Regions from separate parts of the Homo sapiens genome. Here region 2 is linked to region 1. A link means that fine-mapping ties the variant in region 1 to the expression of a gene that starts in the linked region. Tissue or cell type: skeletal muscle. Region 1 holds a variant in brackets; the other region holds the start of a gene. All regions are shown on one strand. Distances are from middle to middle.

The links. PIP is the estimated chance that this variant, and not a neighbour inherited with it, causes the effect.
Region 2: it holds the start of DCPS, and the variant in region 1 is fine-mapped to the expression of DCPS in skeletal muscle (GTEx, PIP above 0.99). The same link has a PIP of 0.9 or more in anterior cingulate cortex, caudate, cerebellar hemisphere, cerebral cortex and prefrontal cortex.

The regions. Positions count from the first base shown.
Region 1 is chr11:126,345,726-126,353,904 of GRCh38, reverse strand. It overlaps DCPS (decapping enzyme, scavenger), which reads right to left. Exons shown (of 6, transcript NM_014026.6): 6 at 3,900-8,179. All of the region lies in intron 1 of GSEC (G-quadruplex forming sequence containing lncRNA), which reads left to right. Among named protein-coding and RNA genes, the nearest start is that of GSEC, 5.8 kb to the left of the region's middle. The variant G/C (reference allele first, on the strand shown) is at 4,020.
Region 2 is chr11:126,299,547-126,307,725 of GRCh38, reverse strand. DCPS (decapping enzyme, scavenger) reads right to left here and starts at 3,666. Exons shown (of 6, transcript NM_014026.6): 1 at 3,445-3,666; 2 at 982-1,156. The coding sequence starts at 3,645. It overlaps TIRAP-AS1 (TIRAP antisense RNA 1), which reads left to right and starts at 3,404. Exons shown (of 2, transcript NR_187388.1): 1 at 3,404-3,538. RefSeq lists an enhancer at 1,631-1,920 and a silencer at 3,579-3,708.

The DNA of each region.
Region 1 (8,179 bases):
TAGATCTAAGCACAGTTTGCAGTTCTTGCCGTGAATCACGTAAATGTCACTCTACCAGAAAATGGAACTTAAGAACCAGCATTTGTTCCTGGAGACCTGAGTTCCAACTCTTGTCTCTGCCACTAAATAGCTTTAGTTTTCTTACTGGGGTGGGGGGAGGGGAAAGGAAATAACTGCTTATTCAAAGGGCTATTGTTGGCATTAAATCAGGCAATGGATGCGAATTTGGTCTGAAAGCATAACCTGCTATATATAAGTGTGTGCTGTTACTATGCAGGTGGCGTGCCTTTTCTAACCTATAAGCTGTATTCAGGCCTCTCCCCCAGCTTATCCCAAGCCTGGTTACTAGGTGCCCAGAAGCTAACCGTAATTCTGCTCCCCTCAGGTTAGGCCACAATGTGCTTACTCATGATGATCTTTTCCCTCCAGTTTCTTAACAGCATGGCCACAAGCTTAGCTCACTGCCTAGAAGCCATGTCATCTTTGGGGCAGGAGGGAAGCAATTCTGGTGCCTTTCTCCTCTTCTCTTCTCTCTTTTTCTTTCTTTCTTTTCTTCCTTCCTTCTTTCCTTCCTTCCTTTCTCTCTCTTCTTGTCTTTCCATCTTTCCTTCTCCTCTTCTTTCTTTTTCTTTCTTTCCTTTCTTCCTTCCTTCTTTCCTTCCTTCCTTTCTCTCTCTTTTTCTTGTCTTTCCATCTTTCTTTCTCCTCTTCTTTCTTTTTCTTTCCTTTCTTCCTTCCTTCTTTCCTTCCTTCCTTTCTCTCTCTTTTCTTGTCTTTCCATCTTTCCTTCTCCTCTTCTCTTTTTCTTTCTTTTTCTTCCTTCTTTCCTTCCTTGCTTTCTCTCTCTCTCTTCTTGTCTTTCCATCTTTCCTTCTCTTCTCTTTTTCTTTCTTTCCTTTCTTCCTTCCTTCTTTCCTTCGTTCCTTTCTCTCTCTCTTTTCTTGTCTTTCCATCTTTCCTTCTCCTCTTCTCTTTTCTTTCCTTTCTTCCTTCTTTCCTTCCTTCCTTTCTCTCTCTTTTCTTGTCTTTCCATCTTTCCTTCTCCTCTTCTTTCTTTTTCTTTCTTTTTTTTTCTTCCTTCCTTCTTTCCTTCCTTCCTCTCTCTCTCTCTTTTCTTGTCTTTCCATCTTTCCTTCTCCTCTTCTCTCCTCTCTCCTCTCCATGTGCTTTTTTGGCCCCAGGCCCCCCTTTGGTGCAACTACAACACATGATGAGCGGCTCAGCAAGAGGCAGTAGGATGGGATAAGCAGGGCTTTGGCCCATGGGGACTGTTTCTTTTGGATGTTAACTGTGCCAAAGTGGGACCAAGGCAACCAGAGGAACAACAGGTCTTAGTCCCCTTCCAAGCCATCAGTGCTGCCTCCATTCCCATTTCCTTTGCCTCCCAAACTCTCCTGTGTTTCTGCTTGGTGGAAGTGGCAGGACACCTCTGTGCTGGGGCAACCAGAGGGGCCTCAGGAGCAGAGGGAGGAGCAGGTGCATCTAGATCTGGGAAGCCCTGGCCCTGCGGCCCCTCTCTGGCAGGAGTGGGTGTGAGCAGCAGCGTGGAACAGCTCCTGTATCATGTGCCACGTTAGCATCCTGCCCACCAAGAGGAGGAAACAGCAAGATGTGTTTGAGGAAGAAATATACCCCATCCAGCATCTCAGATGATTTTAAAAATAGCAACTCCAGGATGGTATTTCAGCTCCTATTTTTATCAGATTTATATGGCTGGACCATGGAGCTGAGCTGTTCCCAGGGTTCTCAGTAGCAAGGGACATCACTCTTGTAGTGTTAGCTGAAATGCATTCCAGGAACCTGTAGGCTGAAAGAGATCCTGAGAAGTCATTGCACACAGCCCCTGCCTCTGTTTAGGACCACAGTCAGTTAACCACCAAAAGTTTACGGCTTTTTTCCTTGAAACCTCTTGGTTGGCCAGGAGTGTTGGCTCATGCCCGTAATCTCAGCACTTTGGGAGGCCGAGGTGGGTGGATCACCAGAAGTCGGAATTTCGAGACCAGCCTGGCCAACATGGTGAAACCCCATCTCTACTAAAAACACAAAAATTAACTGGGCGTGGTAGTGGGTGCCTGTAATCCCAGCTACTCAGGAGGCTGAGGCAGGAGAATCACTTGAACCCGGGAGGCGGAGGTTGCAGTGAGCCGAGATTGAGCCACTGCACTCCAGCCTGGCAACAGAGTGAGACTGTCTCAAAAAGTAAATAAATAGAAACTCTTGGTTCCATGCGTAGTCTAGCATTTTGTAGCACTTCTAATCACGAAGTTATTTTTAATATTTGTTTGGTCTGTTATACAAAATGTAGACTGGATGGCTTATAAACTACAGAAATCTCTCACAGTTCTGTAGGCTAGAAAGTCTAAGATGAAGATGCCAGCAGCCTGCTTCCTGGTTCATACAAGGTCATCTTCTCACTGTAACCTCACAGTGAGAGGAAGGGCCTAGGGGTGACTCTGGGATCTCTTTTATGAGGCACTAATCCCATTAATGGGGGCCCCCCACCCTCATGGCCTAATCACCTCCCAAAGGCCCCACGATTGCCTTGGGTGTTAGGATTTCCACATATGAATTTTAGGGGAACACAGACGTTCAGGCCATAGCAAATATCTTGCCCAAATATCTCTAGTTCCATCCTTTTGGTCACTCTCAGACCAGAACATTTACTGAGTGATTACTATGTCCCACAAAATTCTTATTTAACCCTCAGAAAAACCGTCTGGGGGAAGCATTGTTATCACTCCTATTTCATGAGCAGTTATGTAACTTGCCCCAGATAAGACTTGGTTATGGCACAGATTCTGTGTTGGAGCCTTCAGACCACTCTACTTCCCAAGCAGGGGAGGAACAGAACATTAAAGATTTTCTTGGCCTTGGCTTTCATTTCTTCATCGTGGTTCTGAAAGGAAAATTGGCTACAGTCTTAAATGTATGTGTGGGCCCACGCTAGAAGCTCAGCTCTCAGTGCCAGCCACACTGAGCCCTGGTCTCCCTAACTTCCGGGCCTTTACTCTGCTTGTCATTGGGCTGATAACCAAGATCCAGCCTAGAGCACAAGAAGACAAACGCTGCGTGATCTCGTGTGTAGAACCTAACAAAGTGGAACTCACAGAAGCAGAGAGTAGAATGGTGGTTGCCTGTTGGAATGGGGAGATGGTCAGAGAATGCAAACTTTCAGTTGGATGGGAGGAAGAAGTTCCAGAGATCTATTGTGCCACATGGTGACAATAGTTAATAACAATGTACTGGGCGGGGGGTGGTGGCCTACGCCTGTAATCCCAGCACTTTGGGAAGCTGAGGCAGACAGATCACTTGAGGTCAGGAGTTCTAGACCAGCTTGTCCAACATGGTGAAACCCCGTCTCTACTATAAAACTACAAAATTAGCCAGGTGTGGTGGTGTGCGCCTGTAATCTCAGCTACTTGGGAGGCTGAATCGCTTGAACCCAGGAGGTGGAGGTTGCAGTGAGTCGAGACTGCGCCACTGCCCTCCAGCCTGGGTGACACAGTGAGACTCTGTTTCAAAAAAACAAAAAAAGCAATGTACTGTATACTTGAAAATTGCTCACAGAGATTTTAAATGTTCTCACCATTACAAAATGATAAATATGTGACATAATGCATATGTTAATTAGCCCGATTTAGTGATTCCACAGTGTATACATATAACAAAACATGTTGTACACCATAAATGTATACTATTTTTATTTGCCAATTAAATATATTTTTTTAAAGTTTTAGCCTGCAGGTTTAGCTTTTTGGGGCTGAAGCCCCATAGCCCCCTCCACTTCAACACACTCATCAGCATTGTAATTACTTTGTAATTAATGCCTGTGTTCCTACTAAATTGTAAGCTCCACATGAGCTCTGCCTCCAGGTGCTTGCAAAAAAACCAAAAGGGGGTGGGGGTAGATGCTCAAAGCCTGTTTATTAAATTGTATTGAAATTGAAACGCTTGAAACAGATTTCATTCCTGCTTATTTTCTAACAGTGGTTAAAACTTGGTAACTTCAAGTTGACATG[G/C]ATTTCAGAATTCAATGTAATTTCAATAATATTATAATAGAACAAACTTAGGGTTGCCAACATTTATTTTGCTAAGCAAGGCTATTTTAAAAACAACTATCAATAATTATCTTATTTTAAAAAATACATTTTAACCTTATATATACATGTTTGGAATAAAAACAGTCCTTCCTGAGAAGGAAGAGTTGGCAGACCTACATCAATAAAATAAATATATTCAAATGCTTTGGATATGGAAGTATTACAAGAGAAACATTTTCAAGTATTACTTCGTATGTAGTTGTTTCTTATTTCTCAGTTCGGGGATCTGTATTCAACAGGGACATGGAATATGGAGCCTGAGATGGTATTTTTCTGTTTCATGTTGGTAAATAGAGACCACTCAGCAATTTTGCTCTATTAGGAAAGTTTGAGACAAATGGAGAGAAGCCAAGGAACAATAGCAGTCATGCCTCCAACTGCTTCTTTCCTTCTCCAACCAAGCCAGAAAGAATGTAGGCCAAGTGTTGAGGGCTAAAAGCCAGTCGTGGAGCCGTCCAGGATTTATCTAGGAAGGGTGACATCTGCCACTGCTCCAGCAGAGCGGGGGCATGGCATGCTTCTGAGGGCACACAGTTCAACACATGAGGCACTCTGCAGCACACAGGACCAAGGTGTCATGCTGCCAGAGGGGCTGGCATTTGCCATTTTGTCAAGGCAGGGCTGCAGCTTGTGGCTTGCTCAGGACAGAAGGATGTTGGGCTCTTACGAGATAGCAGGAAGAAAGCATGAGGTAGAGGGGCTGGTCCTTACTCTCCATCCCCTGCGTGAGATCCAGGAGGCCTCATTCAGAGCCTAGCTCTGGTCCTCCATTCGCCACATGTTTTTTGAGCACTTATAGGTGAGTCACCACCCTAGGTTCTGGGGAAATGGTGAACAAAGGGCCAGAAGTCTCTGCTTCCTGGAGCTGACGTTCACTCCATAATGCTGGACAAGACATCCTGAGCCCATTTCTTCGTAAAAAGGAAGGAGAATGTGGGTCATGAAATGATCTGCTATATGAATGTAGTGTTATAATGTTGCTTTGTCTCAAAGGTTGGTTTGCTGAGCCAGGTAGTGTCTTAGGGGCCAGGGATAGAGAGATAACTAAAACAAAGCTCCTACCCTCAAGACCCTCTCAGTCTAGTGAGGAAAGCGGAGAAACTCACAAATAGGAATAAAAGGAGGCACTATATTGCAAAGCTATCATCTTGAGTTACCTGGGAGTCTGATATGAAGGTCACCCTAATAAAGACAGACTATGCTTTTGGAGTCTCAACAGGACTTGGCAGAGCAGCCAACCCTGGTGCACTCTAGACCTTGAGGGTGATAAGCCCAAAGAGGGTTGGATTGAGGGAGGGAGCTGCATGGGGGCCGTGGCCGGCAGGGTCCCTGGAGATTACAGCAGCAGAGCACTGGCTGGCTCTGAAGGGGAACCCTTGCCAGGCCTCTAGCAGAGGCTTGTCTTTCCATGTACAAGAAAAGTTAAGTGGTGAGGCCTGGAGAGGGGCCCCCTTCTGTACTGTGGTGAAGATAAACGAGGCTGGGAGAGGAGTGAGGGGACGCTATCCCAGAGAGGCTCCTCCCCACAGAGTGGGCAGAAGGAAGACAGAACTGGCCAGCCCCTCGGGGGAGTCGAGAAACCTTCCAGAGTGTGGGTCCCTGTCTCCATGCCCTGCCTCTCCAGACCTGAGTGCCTGCCCTCTGCTGTGACTGCCAGCCTCGTCTGTCCTGTTGGGTGAACTCTGTCCCATCTCTCTTGCCCCTCAAACATTTATTTATCCGGTGTCAAATTCCTACCCACCTTCCTCCAGGGGCCAGGCGCTACGAGATGAGGGGAAGGAACGGCAAGGTCAGCGGGAGCCCGTGGAGTCAGACCCTCCAGCAGCACCACTGGGGGCTGGGCAGGAGGGCATGGGCTGAGGCCACAGGGAAGGGCTGCTCCACAGGGAGGCCTCCCTCTGCTCCGTGGCAGTTGTGGTGCTGGAGATGGAGACCGTGTTTGCTTGTTGGGACCACATCTGCTTTCAGAGGGGAAGCGGGTCACTTCTTTCCCCTGGACCTGGAATGGGCACAACTGAGACGCAGGGAGCATTCCTGCAAGCTGGACACTGCTCTGGGAGAAGACCTCCATCCAACCTCCTGCCAAGACCCCAGCAGCTGCCAGTGTCACTGCCCACAAAAGTATTTGCTTAGCCCAAGAAGGAGTCAGTCAGATGTGTGGTGGCCATGAAATGGATCCTGCTGATTCTCTGTCAGACCTCCCTGCATTGGTCACTACCTCAAAGTTCCTTGGCTGCAACTCCATGTTGCCTGAATCTAGGGACTGTTGACGTATTGCAGGGGCTGGGCGCGGTGGCTCACGCCTGGAATCCCAGCACTTTGGGAGGCCGAGATGGGTGGATCACCTGAGGCCAGGAGTTGGAGACCAGCCTGGCCAACATGGTGAAACCCCGTCTCTACTAAAAATACAAAAATTAGCTGGGCATGGGGGCGCACCCCTGTAGTCCCAGCTACTCAGGAGGCTGAGGCAGGAGAATCACTTGAACCCAGGAGGCAGAGGTTGCAGTGAGTCGAGATTGTGCCACTGCACTCCAGCCTGGGTGATGGAGCGAGATTGTCTCAAAAAAAAAAAAAAAAAAAAGAGCTGCAGGGAAGAATGGCTGAGTGGAGGCCAGTGGCTTCATTGTGCCTCATCTGAACTCCCTGAAGGCTGAAGCAGGTCCCTGAGGCTTTCTGACCACACCCTCCACTCCCCGGCTGTTTCTATTTTTTTAATTTTTTTTTCTGAGAGGGAGTCTTGCTCTGTCACCCAGGCCAAAGTGCGGTGGCTCACGGCAACCTCCGCCTCCCGGGTTCAAGGGATTCTCCTGCTTCAGCCTCCCAAGTAGGTGGGATTATAGGAGCCCACCACCACACCTGGCTAATTTTTCTGTTTTTTAGTAGAGATGGGTTTCACCATGTTCGTGATTCTGCTGTTTCTAAGGAGTCTCTCCCAGGACCATGGGGGTCCACAGCAGGCCCTGAGACCCTGAAGCAGGTTGGCTGCACCTGGGCTACCACCTGCAGTAAAGGGGCTAATCTCTGAATGAGGCTTCCTGGTTCTCAGGCAGGGGATGGAGAGTAAGGACCACCCACTGTGCCTCAAGCTTCCCCCCTGCTGTCACTTAGGAGCCTGCCATCCTGCCATCCCTGAGAGCTTCCCAAGCAAGGCACAAAATCCACAGCCCTACTCTGACAAAGTGGCAAACACCAGCCCCTCTGGCAGCATGATGCCTTGGTCCTGTGTGCTGGAGAGAGCCTGTGTGTTTACTTGTGTGCCCGCCCATACAAGCCATGTCCCTGCGCCGCTTGAGCCCTGTTGGCTGCCTAACTGCTCATCAGCCTCTGACGCTTTGAGGTCCCTTCCTGGTCTCAAGATCCTCTGAACATCTGCCTCTGATAGGCCTTGAACCCGAGCCGCCTCCGGGCTTTTGTATTCAACTGCAACCATATCATTTGCCCTTGCTGATTCACTGTTTTGCACTTGATCTTCTGGCTGCTTCATGTGAGTCTGTTTTGTCTTCCTGCCGAGATAAAAACTCAAGGCTGGGGACTCGCTGACCAAATAACAGAGCAAGGCAGGCTTTTCGGCCTTGCATAATCTGATTCTTATTAAAACCCGCCGATTTCCAGGCACCAAGCCCCTATCCTCGTCAACAAGAAGTTTATCAGCAGGGTTGACTGACTCACAGGGAGGTGTGACCTCACTGCTGGAAGGAGGAAGTGCCATCAGAAACCTGTATAGATAATTTCCTGAAAGCTTCCAAGTTTGGTTTTTTGGGGAACTCCTCAAAGGAGAGGTGGATGGCAGGGGAAGGAGGAGGGGTGATGGGGAGGAGCAGAATAAGAAGTTGTACAAACAGGAGAGGCACAGAGTGGGGAGAAGGAAGCCACCACGGACGGTGAGCCCTGGGGCTTGGAGAAGGCCCTCGGCACCCTTCCAGGGCAGCTCCCACCTGTCAGTTGAAACCACCACCTGGAGACTTTCCACCATTCTCAAGGCCTTCCCACAGGTTCTACCCACCCACTGTCCCCCACCATCTGTCTGCCTCCCAGGCCACGCTGTCCACACTGAGTGAGCCCGCTAGTTTATTCAATAC
Region 2 (8,179 bases), 46 kb after region 1:
TAGATTAATCTATTATTCTGGCTGGGCACGGTGGCTCACACCTGTAATCCCAGCACTTTGGGAGGCCAAGACGGGTGGATCACGAGGTCAGGAGTTCAAGACCAGCCTGGCCATGATGGAAACCCTGACTCTACTAAAAATACAAAAATTAGCCAGGCGTGGTGGTGGGCGCCTGTAATCCCAGCTGCTCGGGAGGCTGAGGCAGGAGAATTGCTTGAACCTGTGAGGCGGAGGTTGCAGCGAGCCGAGATCGCGCCACTGCACTCTAGCCTGGGCAACAGAGCAAGACTCCATCTCAAAAAATATATATATATTATTCTATCCCATGAATCACACTCTCTCCCTAAAACATACTACACTACAACAAGGTTTCTCTTTTTTTTTTTTTTTTTTGAGATAGGGTTTTGTTCCATCACCCAGGCTGGAGTACAGTGGCACAATCTCAGCTCATTGTAACCTCTGCCTCCTGGGTTCAAGCGAGTCTCCCACCTCAGCCTCCCAAGTAGCCAGGATTACAGGTGAACGCCACCATGCCCAGCTAAATTTTGTATTTTTAGTAGAGATGAGGTTTCACCATGTTGGCCGAGAGTCTGGTCTTGAACTCCTGACCTCAGGTGATCTGCCCGCCGTGGCCTCCCAAAGTGCTGGGATTACAGGTGTGGGCCACCATGCCTGGCCAGGTTTCTGAGTTTCAGCACTATTGACATTACTTTGCTGTGGGAGCCTGTCCTGTACATTGTAAGGTGTTTAGCAGCATTCTTGATCTCCACCCACTAGATGCCAGAAGCAACACCCCACCACCACCCCCGATTCTGACAATCAAAAATGTCTTCACCGATGGCCAAATGTCCCCTAGGGAAGTAATCTCCCTATTGTACTAGAATATGCAAATCGGGTATAGAGAGTCTGGTCACCATACCACCTAATTTCCCACCATCCCATTCTCCCTCCATACAGCCACCCTGGCCACCTCTTGCTCACCATTCAGTTGTCTTGGAGGGAACAAGTGATAGGTGCTGTAGATATCATTGGAGAACTGCAACTGGAGCTCAGGGCTGCCCGTCAGGAGCTGAGCCACCTGTTCCACCTGAAATGGCGTCTTCTCCAGGATCACAACGGCATCCTCTCCATCCCCATCCCCAGAGGCCTCATTCACCTGTGGGCAGAGGCATCATCAGTGGGCTCAAGGGCAGAACCACGATGAGACTCTGGAGAGCAAGACAGAAGCTCCCAGGGCCTTTGAATTCCCAATACTTGGGATTTCCTTCCCTGAAGTCTTCCCTCTGGGGAAGTCTAGCCAATGGCACTCACATTTCACATTTCTTTTCTCAGAGAAGGCATCTTTTTTTTTTTGAGATGGAGTGTTGCTCTGTTGCCCGGATTGGAGTGCAATGGCGCGATCTTGGCTCACTGCAACCTCCACCTCCTGGGCTCAAACAATTCTCCCGCCACAGCCTCCTGAGTAGCTGGGATTACAGGCGCATGCCACCACATCTGGCTAATTTTTGTATTTTTAGTAGAGATGGGGTTTCACCATGTTGGCCAGGCTGGTCTTGAACTCCCGATCTCAAATGATATGCCTGCCTCAGCCTCCCAAAGTGCTGGGATTACAGGTGTGAGCCACCATGCCCAGCCAGAGAAGGCATCTCCACCCAAATCCTTGTGGCAGTTCTCACACCTTTCTTCCCCAGAATACAAGGCTTCTCAGTTGTCTTCCATTTTAGGCTTACAAGACCTCTGTCAAGTTCTCCCCATTTCAGAAGATGAAAAACAGACCTTGAGTGACTTGCCCAAGGTCACATGAACAGTCAGCATTGAAACAGAAACCAGAACCTAGGTCTCCCAAGTGACTCCTAGCTCGAAGGCTCTCATGACTAACACCTTCAACAGGTGCTGCACACTGAAGACAGCTGGGCTGAGAGAACCAGACAGAATCGCATACAAAAAAACAGAAAACAAGAAACAAAAACAAACAAACAAACAAACAAAAAACAACAAAAAACAAGGCCCAGCGCAGTCGCTCATGCCTATAATCCCAGCACTTTGGGAGGCAGAGGTGGGTGGATCACCTGAGGTCAGGAGTTCAAGACCAGCCTGGCCAACATGGTGAAACCCTGTCTCTACTAAAAATACGAAAATTAGCTGGGCATGGTGGCAGATGCCTGTAATCCCAGCTACTTGGGAGGCTGAGGCAGGAGAATCACTTGAATCCAGAAAGTGGAGGTTGCAGTGAGCCAAGATAGTGCCATTGCACTCCAGCCTGGACAAGAAGAGTGAAACTCCATCTCAAAAAAAAAAAAAAAAAAAAAAAAGGCGGGTGCGGTGGCTCACGCCTGTAATCCCAGCACTTTGGGAGGCAGAGGCAGGCGGATCACCTGAGGTCAGGAGTTCGAGACCAGCCTGGCCAACATGGTGAAACCCCCATCTCTACTAAAAATACAAAAATTAGCTGGGCATGGTGGCGGGGGCCTGTAATCCCAGCTATTGGGCAGGCTGAGGCAGGTAGAATAGCTTGAACTCGGGAGGCAGAGGTTGCAGTGAGCCGAGATCACATCACTGCACTCTAGCCTGGGTGACAGAGAGGAGAGACTCCGTCTCAAAAATAAATAAATAAATAAATAAAAATTTAAAAACCAGATACACACAGAGGCATGGAAGCCTAGGCCAAGGTTCCCTGATCCTCCCAAAGGTGAGAGTTCCTGCTAGTAGTTCTAGGGAACCCCCTTATCTGCCCTGGCTAGGCCTCCTCACTAGTTTCTGGGGAACCCCCATATCTGCTCTGGCTAGGCCTCCTCACTAGTTCCTGGAATGGTCTCCATCTCTCCTCAGCCCCTGCCAGATTGCTGAGCACGTTGGTATTGGAGCAAGCTGTGTGTATCTGTCTCGCCAGAAATATTCCGTAGTCCTGAAGATCAGGGATGGTAACTTTCGTCTCCACATCCCCAGTACCTAGTTTAGTGTCTGGCATGCATGAAAGTGCGTGCGTAGAACTGAATTAACAATTATAATATATTGTTCTCCTGTTACGGCTGAAGTCGCGTAAGGCAGAGATCACATCTCCTACAGTCTCATGTCGTTTCCACGGACAGGGATGAGCGAGACATCTAACATTGACTGGGTTCCTAGTCCCTGTATACATAAATGGATGATGAATGGCTTGGGGAATGTAACATGTGATCTTTAATCTGCAATGCACTCTCCCAGTAGATATTTCTAGTGGAGACATTAGAAAAATTAGAGCTAGATGTGTTCATTGCCTTAATTTCAAAGGCAATCTTGCCGCCTTTCACCGCCCCTCTATGCATTCTAGTGGCGCACTCCCGCCTCCCCGGAGTGATAATGATTGGTATTTTCCAGCCGAGATCCGAAAAAAAAAAATCTGCCTCCGAGGCGATGATTGGTTCACTGCTTCCCGCATCCCACCTCAGGGTTGCCTCCTGGTACCTTCCCGTGTAGGAAAATGATTTTGTCCCGCGCAGACTCCCTCAGCACCTTCTGCAGTCTGAAGCCGGAGAACGGTAAGCGGACAGGAGCACAGGTACCATTTCCAACTCCTGCCTCCTTTTCCTCTGTGCTGGCGGCGTGGGCCTCCTCCACGTCCAATTCGCGCTTCCTCTTGCCTAGTTGAGGAGCTGCGTCCGCCATGCTGCCGCGGAGGCGGTGTGCGCCTGCGCCCCCTGCGCTGGCCCCGCCCCTAGCCCGAGTCCAGCGGCCTGGCTGGGCTGCTAACTCCCGGCCTACCCTGCTCTGGCACCCGCTCCTGCGGGATGCGTGCCGCGCATGGCGGAGCCCGCTGACCTGTCCCAGGGCGCGCCTTTCAACCGAGTTACTGCCTTTGGCCCCGTTGTGGTGCCGGCCGGCCCTCAGGGAAGGGAAAAGAAGGCTGAGAGTCCCGAAAGCGGCGGGCTAGAGGTGGCTGCGCAGTGAAGAGGGACCCCCAGGCCCACGCCCCGGGGTGGGAGCCGAAGACGCCCTTGGGCCACGGTAGTGTTGGAGCCCTTGTTTGAATACTGACATTTTAATCATAGTTACACCGACGTTGACCAATTATCGGGGAAGCAACGTTTCTGACGCAAATCCGTGAGCCCATTTGATTCCTTGGTCGATTTTTTATACCGAGTATTTAAGCCATTTCCATTTTTCTCCCATTTTAATTACTTTGCAGAAATTTTCATCGTGGTCAGTTTTTTACTTTGTAGACTCAGTACTTTTCTGCTGACAAAAAAGGTAAACGAATATGGCCAGAAGAACCATCTCCACCACCCACTTATTTCCGGGCTAGAGGCATCCCCCTCCTCTCTATTTTGTTTACCTGTATTTCTGCCCTGCTACCCAGGGATATGATTTGCAGTATGATTCGTCTCCCAGGGTTTCGTTTCTCTTTTTTTTTTTTTTTTTTTTTTTTTTTGCCATATAAAATTATTACTTGTAACTTCTGCTGTTGAGGGTTTCTTTGGTGACCATTGTTTCTGGTTAGCCCGTTTTTCACTGGTGTTATTTAACAGATCTAAATTTTGTGAAGAGTTGGTACTTACGGACAGGCGCGGTGGCTCACGCCTGTAATTCCAGCACTTCGAGAGGTCGAGGTGGACGGATCACGAGGTTAAGATACCGAGACCATCCTGGCCAACATGGTGAAACCCCGTCTCTACTAAAAATACAAAAATTACCCGGGCGTGGTGGCCCGCGCCTGTAGTCCCAGCTACTCGGGAGGCTGAGGCAGGAAAATCGCTTGAACGCGGGCGGAGTATTGTAGTGAGCCGAGATCGCACCACTGCACTCCACCCTGGCGACAGAGCGAGACTACGTCTCAAAGAAAAAAAAAAAGAGTTGGTACTTACATCGCTTCAGTCAGCCACACATTTATTTTGCCAGTGATTTGAGTTTAGGTTTTCAGACAGATCTCATGGGTGTGGGACAGTTTTTGCCATTCTCAACGTTAGCAACAAGATGCAATTTACAGTCAGTTTTTGGTCAATAACAAAGTGTACCATGTGTTAGTTTGATTTTTGGATTACTTCTACCAGAAATATAGATTAGGAGTTGGATAAAAGACTACTTTAGGCCAGGCGCGGTGGCTCATGCCTGTAATCCCAGCACTTTGGGAGGCCGAGGTGGGCGGATCACGAGGTCAGGAGATCGAGACCATCCTGGCTAACGTGGTGAAACTCCGTCTCTACTAAAGATACAAAAAAATTAGCCAGGCGTGGTGGCGGGCGCCTGTAGTCCCAGCTACTTGGGAGGCTGAGGCAGGAGAATGGCGTGAACCCGGGAGGCGGAGCTTGCAGTTAGCTGAGATCGCGCCACTGCACTCCAGCCTGGGTGACAGAGCGAGACTCCATCTCAAAAAAAAAAAAAAAAAAAAAGGACTACTTTGTGTGTGTGTGTGTGTGTGTGTGTGATGCAGAAAGCATTATTAGGAGAGACTTAGGATCTGTCCCCCAGGCTGGAGTGCAATGGCGCGATCTCGGCTCACTGCAACCTCTGCCTCCAGGTTCAAGCGATTCTCCTGCCTCAACTTCCTGAGTAGCTGGTATTACAGGCGGCTGCTACCACTCCCGGCTAATTTTTTGTATTTTTAGTAGAGTCAGGGTTTCACCATGTTGGCCAGGCTGGTCTCGAACTCCTGACCTCGTGATCCGCCCGCCTGGGCCTCCCAAAGAGCTGGCATTACAGGCGTGAGCCACCGCACCCTGCCAAAGTAGCTATGTTTTAACAAAAAGAGCCCATAATTGAGAGCCATGAAGTCGGGCCCCAACACTGACTAGCTGTGCAACTTTGGAAAAGTCTCTTAACCTTTCCAGGTCTCCATTTTCCATGTGCCAGCGGCTATTAGTTCTAAGCAAGACAACGAGGCCTCTTCTTTCATAAAATGTATATTCAAATGGGGTACATGAGGTAAACAAGATAATGATTAAGAACTGTTTTTTGTTTTTTGTTTTTTGTTTTTTTTTGAGACGGAGTCTCCCTCTGTCGCCCAGGCTGGAGTGCAGTGGTGCGATCTCGGCTCACTGCAAGCTCCACCTCCCAGGTTCACGCCATTCTCCTGCCTCAGCCTCCCAAGTAGCTGGGACTACAGGGGCCTACCACCACGCCTGGCTAATTTTTTGTATTTTTAGTAGAGACGGGGTTTCACCGTGTTAGCCAGGATGGTCTCAATTTCCTGACCTCGTGATCTGCCCGCCTCAGCCTCCCAAAGTGCTGGGATTACAGGCGTGAGCCACCGTGCCCGGCCAAGTACTGTTAATAGGACAAAACTGGACAGTGTGAAAGAGCCTGGGGATAGGAGCCCCCCCCCCCCGCCCTTTTTTTTCTTTCTTTGAGACAGAGTCTCACTCTGTCACCCAGGCTGGAGTACAGTGGTGCAATCTTGGCTCACTGCAACCTTCACCTCCCAGGTTCAAGCGACTCTTCTGCCTCAGCCTTCTAAGTAGCTGGGATTACAGGCGTACACTAGCACACCTGGCCAATTTTTGTATTTTTAGTAGAGATGGGGTTTTGCCATGTTGGCCAGGCTGGTCTCAAACTCCTGACCTCAGGTGACCTGCCCATCTCCCAAAGTGTTGGGATTACAGGCATGAGCCACCATGCTCGGCCAAGCTCTTTAGATAAGATGATCATGGACAGCCTCTCAAAAGGTGACATTTGAGCTGAGACTTGAATGATGAGAAGGAACCAGCCATATCAGCCATATGAAGAGCCCAGGCACAGTAAATATTAGCTGTCAAAGGCCCTAGAGCAGTAATGTGCTTGACATTTTTAAAAAATAGGAATGACCGTGGGGCATGGTGGCTTACACCTGTAATCCCAGCACTTTGGGAGGCTGAGGTGGGCGGATCACTTCAGATCAGGAGCTCGAGACCAGCCTGGCCAACATGGTGAAACATAGTCTGTACTAAAAATACAAAAATTAGCTGGGTGTGGTGGTGTGCGCCTGTAATCCCAGCTACCTGGGAGGCTGAGGCAGGAGAATCACTTGAACTCAGGAGGTGCAGGTTGCAGTGAGCCAAGGTCGCGCCACTGCACTTCAACCTGGGTGACAGAGCAAGACTCTGTCTCAAAAGGAATGACCTGTGTAGCTAAAATATAATGAGCAAAATAGAAACATTTGAAATGAAATAGTAGAGAAATGTATTCATTAGCGGCAAAATTAATCAATATGGGTATAATTTTGATTAAAATATAAAACCAGAATTCTACTCTTCAAAAAGGCCTGGCTCATGCCCCACGTGGTGGCTCATACCTGTAGTCCCAGCTACTTAGGAGGCTGAGGTGGGAGGACCACTTGAGCCCAGAAGTTTGAGGCTGCAGTGAGCTATAATCACACCACTGCCCTCCAGCCTGGGCAAGAGAGCGAGGCTTTGTCTCTTAAAAAAAAAGAATGCCAAGGAAAGGATGAGCTCATAGGAAGCCTCAGCTACCAGAGGTTCTATTAAATACCAGACCTCAGTGTGAAAGGAATCTTTATGGTAGTAGTTAAAATTCATTTCCTCAGTTACACTAGCCACTTTGCAAGTGCTTGATATCCACTTGTGGCTATCGTATGAGCACAGATGGAGAACATTTTCATTATCAAAGGAAGTTCTACTAGACAATGCTGTATTAGCTTACTCATTTATTATAAAGCCCTGTTCAATTGTTTTTCAGAAATCTTAAAATTTCTCCCACGCAAGGTGCGGTGGCTCACGCCTGTAATCCCAGCACTTTGGGAGGCCAAGGCGGGTGGATCACTTGAGGTCAGGAGTTTGAGACTAGCCTGGCTAACATGGCGAAACCCCATCTCTATTAAAAATACAAAAATTAGCTGAGTGTGGCAGCAGGCACCTATAATTCCAGCTACTCGGGAGGCTGAGGCAGGAGAATGGCTTGAACCTGGAGGCGGAGGTTGTAATGAGCCAAGATTGCACCACTGTGCTCCAGCCTGAGTGACAGAGCGAGACTCTGTCTCAAAAAAAAAAAAAAAAAAAAACCTCCCAAATCTTTTCTTTTTTAGTCTAAAGAAGGATTGGATACTTCCCAGTTCCATTTCAGGGATTATAACAGACTAAACTGAAAACAAGTCAGCTACAAAATACCCGAACATTCTGGATGTAAAATTTAAAACATTCTTTTAGTTACGTTGCTGAGCTCTCAAAAAAGTAAAATTTGCAGGAACCAAAAATGATGTGGGAGTTTGAAT